2 separate regions of the Homo sapiens genome follow, and region 2 is linked to region 1. Evidence: fine-mapped expression QTL. A gene starts in region 1. The other region holds a variant in brackets. All regions are shown on one strand. Distances are between the middles of the regions.

Region 1 (2,922 bases):
TAAGTTATATTTTCCTTCAAAATCTCTAACTATGAAAGATGACAATTATGTCCAAGTTATCCACAGTACCTCCTGGATTGAAGTAAGTCAGCTTACTGTGGATATAGAAAGCTATCTAAAATGTCAGATCTCTAATTTCAATGCCCTGGTTTCTTTTTTTTTCTTTTTTTTTTTTTTAAGGAGACAGGGTCTCGCTGCACAGTGAGTGGCAAGATCAGGGTTAATTTGGCCTCAAGCAATATTCCCGCCTCAGCCTCCTGAGTAGCTGGCAATATAGGTGCTATGCCACCAAGCCCGGCTAATTTTTGTATTTTTAGTAGAGACGGGGTTTCACCATGTTGGCCAGGTTGGTCTCAACCTTCTGGGCTCAAGCTATCCTCCCGCTCTGCCTCACAAAGTGCTGGGATTGCAGGCCTGCGCCATGGCGTCTGGTTTGATTTCTCTTTTAAATATTTTTTTTGGCCAGGCGTGGTGGTTCATGCCTATAATCCCAGCAGTTTGGGAGGCCAAGGCGGGCAGATCACGAGGTCAGGAGATTGAGACCATCCTGGCCAACCCGGTGAAACCTCGTCTTTACTAAAAATACAAAAAATTAGCCAGGCGTGGTGGCGGACGCCTGTAGTCCCAGCTACTCGGAGGCTGAGGCAGGAGAATCGCTTGAACCCGGGAGGCGGAGATTGCAATGAGCCCAGACTGCACCGCTGCACTCCAGCCTGGGCGACACAGCAGACTTGTCTCAAAACAAAAAACAAAACCAACCAAAAAAACAAAAAACAAATGCAAAACAAAAAACAACAAAAATAAAACGAAATATTTTTTTCTCCCTATGGATTAAACACTTAAAAAATGTTTTACCACTTCTATTTCTGGGTCAACCACAATGTTCGGTTCCATCCAGAAAGACAAGTGGGTTTTGGAGAGGGTGTTTGGTTCCGCCTAGCATGCGAATTCCCATTCCCGCACAACGCTCTTCCTCCCTTCCTCCTTCCGGTAGCGTCCAGCAGGATTCCGCTGTTCCTCCAAAATCTTTGTCAGGAGAGCCATCCTGACGGTACCTTTAGGAAGCCCATAGATACCCGCCACAACCTGTGACTTTCAGGGTCAATTGCGTCTCAATTCGCACGTCTATCCAGAACCTGCGGGGACCACGTCCCCATCCTCCCGCCCGGCCTCCGCCTCCGAGGGTGTCACGTGCTAGACGCGGGCGTGAAGACAGTGTCGCCATGTTGATATCTGGCGTCGCCGTGTAGGGGAAGGGAGAGGGCGGCTGACTAGCTACCCGTAATTTCGGCTCCTGTGCGCAAGTGCGGAAGTGCGCTGGCCAGGAGCGTGATCGGTTTCCGGTCAGTGGTGTGGTACCGGGTACCCGGAGACGTGTATCGGACGGTGGGCCGCAGCCATGGCCGAGAGAAAACCTAACGGTGGCAGCGGCGGCGCCTCCACTTCCTCATCGGGCACTAACTTACTTTTCTCCTCCTCGGCCACGGAGTTCAGCTTCAATGTGCCCTTCATCCCAGTCACCCAGGCCTCCGCTTCTCCGGCCTCCCTGCTCTTACCGGGAGGTAATAAGGGGAGGGCGGCCCCGTGTGTGGTGGGAGGCGGGCGGGGGACGTGCAATGACAAAGGTCAGACGGGAGTTTTTCCTTCTGCCTCGAGCTACCCTCTGGATAGCTTGCCAGGATCATTACTGGCCAGGTTTGAGTGGGTCGGGGGCTTTGGGATCTTGGAGGTGGCAGGTGATGAGACTTGCTCTTCACGGAAACCCCCTGTTCCGAGTTGTCCAGAGTGCTGGACATTCATTCGTACCCTGGCATTCCGCAAATCTTTGCTGAATACCCGTTGTTGGTACGCCAGGTGCTGGCAGGAAATGCAAATAAATTAAACAGTGGCCCTCTCCTAGGGTACAGTAGTCTGTCTCCCACTAGGAGACTCCTAGGATACGGTAAGATACCTCCTAGGATGGACTGTGCCCCTCTCCTAGGATACGGTACACTGTCTCCTACTAGGAGATTGTTGTGATACAGTACAATATCTTCTAGGTTACAGTAAGATATCTTATAAGATGGACTGTGCCCCTCTTCTAGAAGCCTGTAATATTTGTGAAGTAGACATATACAATGCATTCCTTATCTTTTTTTTTTTTTTTTTTTTTTTGAGACGGAGTCTTGCTCTGTCGCCCAGGCTGGAATGCAGTGGCGCGATCTCGGCTCACTGCAGCCTCCACCTTCCAGGTTCAAGTGATTCTCCTGCCTCAGCCTCCCGAGTAGCTGGGACTACAGGCGTCTGCCACCATGCCTGGCTAATTTTTGTATTTGTAGTAGAGACAGGGTTCCACCATGTTGGCCAGGATGGTCTCAATCTCCTGACCTCAAGTGATCCGCCTGCCCTGGCCTCCCAAAGTGCTGGGATTACAGGTTTAACCCCCCACCCATTCCTCATCTTTCAAGACAATACATCACTTCTTCCAAGAAGCTGTTTCTTGTTCTCTTAGGCCCCCACTCCTATGTGCACTCCTAGCTCTTTTTTCATATTTGTATTATTGTCCAGGGAGATTGCTTTTTGATGATTATGTAGCATTGCCCAGAGCATAGTGTTTAAGAGCACAGACTGTCTGTATTCCAGTCCTTGCCCTGCCAGTAACTTGCTGTGTGACTGTAGGCATTTTACTTTACCTCTCTGTGCTTCAGTTTCTATGTATGTGTAGCCTCACAGAATTGTAATTAGAAATGCTTTAATTTTTGCAAAGCGCTAAGTATAGTGCGTGCCAGACAGTGTGATTTAATGTTTGTGAAATAAACACACCTGCCTCTCCATTTGGACTGCAGTCTTCTTCAGCAGCTATGACCTAATTGCCTTTTTATCTCCAGGATCTTATTTAGGGCCTAGTACATAGATCCTCTTTGGATGCTGAGTTTCCAGTGA
Region 2 (2,922 bases), 50 kb after region 1:
TGTTTCTTAAAAAGTATTGTTAGTGGGCTATTAAACTTGGATTTTTCTTTTTATTAATGCAGTATGTTCTTTTTATTCAAGTATGAACTTGTTGAGAAACTATAGTAATATGATTTTTAAGAGATTTATGTTCTACTTAAAATGTGAATTGTACTTCTGAGCTGCCTTAATGCAAGGTCATTTATATTTGTTAAGAGGAAATAATCAAGATCACTCATATCCCAACTGAATCTGAGGTTTTATAAATCCCTCAAACGATTGCTGAGAGCCTGATTGTGGAAAGAAGTGAGATGCACCTTATTTTCAAGAAGTCCTGGGAAGCGCTCTCCTAGCACGTCCATTTCCAGGAGGAGAAGCAAGCAGATGAGAGGTTTTCCATTTTGTCATCCAAGGTAGCTGTGCACTTGCCTTGTTGCTGAAGTTCCAATAATGTGAAAACCAAAGTAGAGGTTTTTTTCTTCTTCTTTTTGTTTTCTATTAATTTCACTTATACCAAAGTGTTTGAAAGTATGAAATGTGTTGCTTCTGAGTTATATAAGGCTACTTCATGACAAGACTGCTTTGTAATATTTCACTTTGTTTTACTACAAATTCAGATCACTTTGTTTTACTATAAATTCAGATTATCCAAATATTTTCCTAATACTATGTGGGAATGCTGATTTTCTTTTGTTACGTAGTGGAAACATTTTGCATTGTTTACATAGTTCTCATGGAACATGGAAATTTTTGAAAGTGATATATGATACACATTTTTTGTGTATGTATTCTAATTAGTGTGAATAAAGCAGTAACATTAATGCATTTTTTAAGCAGCAAACTTATGTATTTCTCTTGTCTTCCTTAAAAGTGTCCCCATGAACTCAGTGTTTATTCCCTTTTCATTTTGAGTACCTGCTTATATGGTCAGTATGTAACGTTAGCATTGGCTCCTAATGGTAGAATTAGAACAGCAAGATTGTAGAGCTGTAATTGACTCCAGACAACATAGATTTCAGCCACCTCATTCTACAGCTGAGGCCAGGACAATAAATGCCTTTCCCAGACTGGGTAGTGGCAGATCTGGGATGGAATATGGTTTTCTTGATTCCCTTTCAGCCTTCATTTCTCTCTCTCAGGACTACTACTTTTTAATTACTTTTCACTTAATTTCCCAATACTGATGAAATAAAGAAAAATGAGGGTTATTTATATACATTTCAATAAAATCCAATTTGATTTTTCAACTTACATCTGATTTTTGTTTGTGTCATTCAGCCTGTCTTCTGAGTAATGGGCAGAGAAGGACCAGGGTTCGTAGAAGAAGCATGTGGCAGCTGAGTGGCAGCAGTCTTGCCCTTTCATT[T/G]TAATACTTGAGTACACAGAAAATAGAATTTTTGAGTGACTCTGCCTGTGGATATATATACTCATACATACATATATATATATACACACACACATATGTATGTATGTATGTATTACTATTCAGTCTCTTAAAAACCAAAAAACAGTAGATCCCCTGAGGGTAGAGTCTTTATGTATGAACATATTGTTCACTGTTGTAACCACCTTGCAGGATTTCAGTCTATAAACTAGGTGAGAATCCAGCTGCTGAGTGAAGCTTGATCTCTGCCTCTTCCTCAGGAGCAGCTCATCCCCTGACAACCTCCCCTCCCAGCCCCTAATCTGGTTTAATGCCCTCCTTTTCCCCAGATAAAGAAAGTCATGTCTGTAGTTATTCCAAAAGTGTTTCATGTGTAGAGTTTGGCACAAAAAGTAAAAAGCGCCAGCATCTGAAGTCAAAGGTGAAAGAGTCATCACAGTACTGATGAAGACACCCAGGCCTCGTCAGCTATGTTAACGTGCTGTATGACAAGAGGAACCTGCTTTCTAAGTCTGCTGGACACGCGTGCTTCTTGAATCCAACCAGACAAGCATGTTTTCTCAAAACCACAGTATAAGACAAGGAAACTGCACAGATTCGAGTGATTTTTGAGGTAAGTATGTTATTGGAAAGGTGTGATCTATATAGAACCCTGTACATGAAAAGGAGGAGATGCCGCTATCTTGGCAGGGATGATCATGTATTTGAAATAGTAACTCACAGCATTTGGTCTCATGATAAGAGTACTGAAGATTATCCCAGAAAACCTAGGATGATTGGTATTTATAGTACCATTGTTTCAGGTTTTTATGACTTGAGGCATCTAACTATCTTAATGCTGTACTTTAGTGTTTACCAAGCAGCTTTCTGGTGGAAACTTGAACTGCAGACACTGAGTGTTTTGGTTTTCCTCCAAGTTATAGTTCTCATTGTAACTTAATAAGTTGGCATTCCAGCTTAGTTTGAGTCAGTTTCCCAGGGCTGGGTCCTCAGAGGAGAGTGGATAGAATTCAGTTCCTCTATGAGCTGGGGTGCTGACATTGTGTTCCTGCTGTTGACTGTCCCTGCGGTGCACGGGACAGACTGTCAGCTAACCTGTCTTCATGACATTTCTATAATACTCCTCAGGGGGTTAACCCCATCTCTACTAAAAATAAAAAAAATTAGCTGGGCATGGTGGCATGTGCCTGTAGTCCCAGCTACAGGAGGCTGAGGCAGGAGAATTGCTTGAACCCAGGAGGTGGAGGTTGCAGTGAGTTGGGATCTCGCCACTGCACTCTAGCCTGAGTGACAGAGCGAGACTCTGTCTCAAAAAAAAATAAATGAATAAAAAATAAAACAGCAACTCTTGCAGATTTCCCGAATGTATTGGTCCCAGAGAACACTGAAAATAATGTCATGTTGTTAACACCAGTGGGAGTTTGGGAAATAATTCCAGCTCTTTAATACTTCTTTCAGCTTCAGATTAAGTGAAATGAGTTTCACATATTTCAATATATGAAATTTTATGATGACACATAAAACAGGCCAGGGGTTATTGAGGACACATCTGTGAGATA

Alleles and levels. Alleles are on the strand shown, and positions count from the first base shown. SD is a standard deviation of normalised expression in the study named.
For the expression in regulatory T cells of the gene that starts at base 1,347 in region 1, allele T in region 2 goes with a higher level than allele G (moderate effect, 0.46 SD a copy in Bossini-Castillo 2019).

Evidence for each region. PIP is the estimated chance that this variant, and not a neighbour inherited with it, causes the effect. A credible set is the group of variants that fine-mapping cannot tell apart.
Region 2: its variant is the best candidate, but not a certain one, in a credible set for the expression of SEC23IP in regulatory T cells (Bossini-Castillo 2019, PIP 0.57).

The regions. Positions count from the first base shown.
Region 1 is chr10:119,891,384-119,894,305 of GRCh38, forward strand. It overlaps SEC23IP (SEC23 interacting protein), which reads left to right and starts at 1,347. Exons shown (of 19, transcript NM_007190.4): 1 at 1,347-1,562. The coding sequence starts at 1,400. RefSeq lists enhancers at 62-573, 574-1,084, 1,085-1,595.
Region 2 is chr10:119,940,917-119,943,838 of GRCh38, forward strand. SEC23IP (SEC23 interacting protein) reads left to right here. Exons shown (of 19, transcript NM_007190.4): 19 at 1-2,922. Among named protein-coding and RNA genes, the nearest start is that of MIR4682, 16 kb to the right of the region's middle. The variant T/G (reference allele first, on the strand shown) is at 1,346.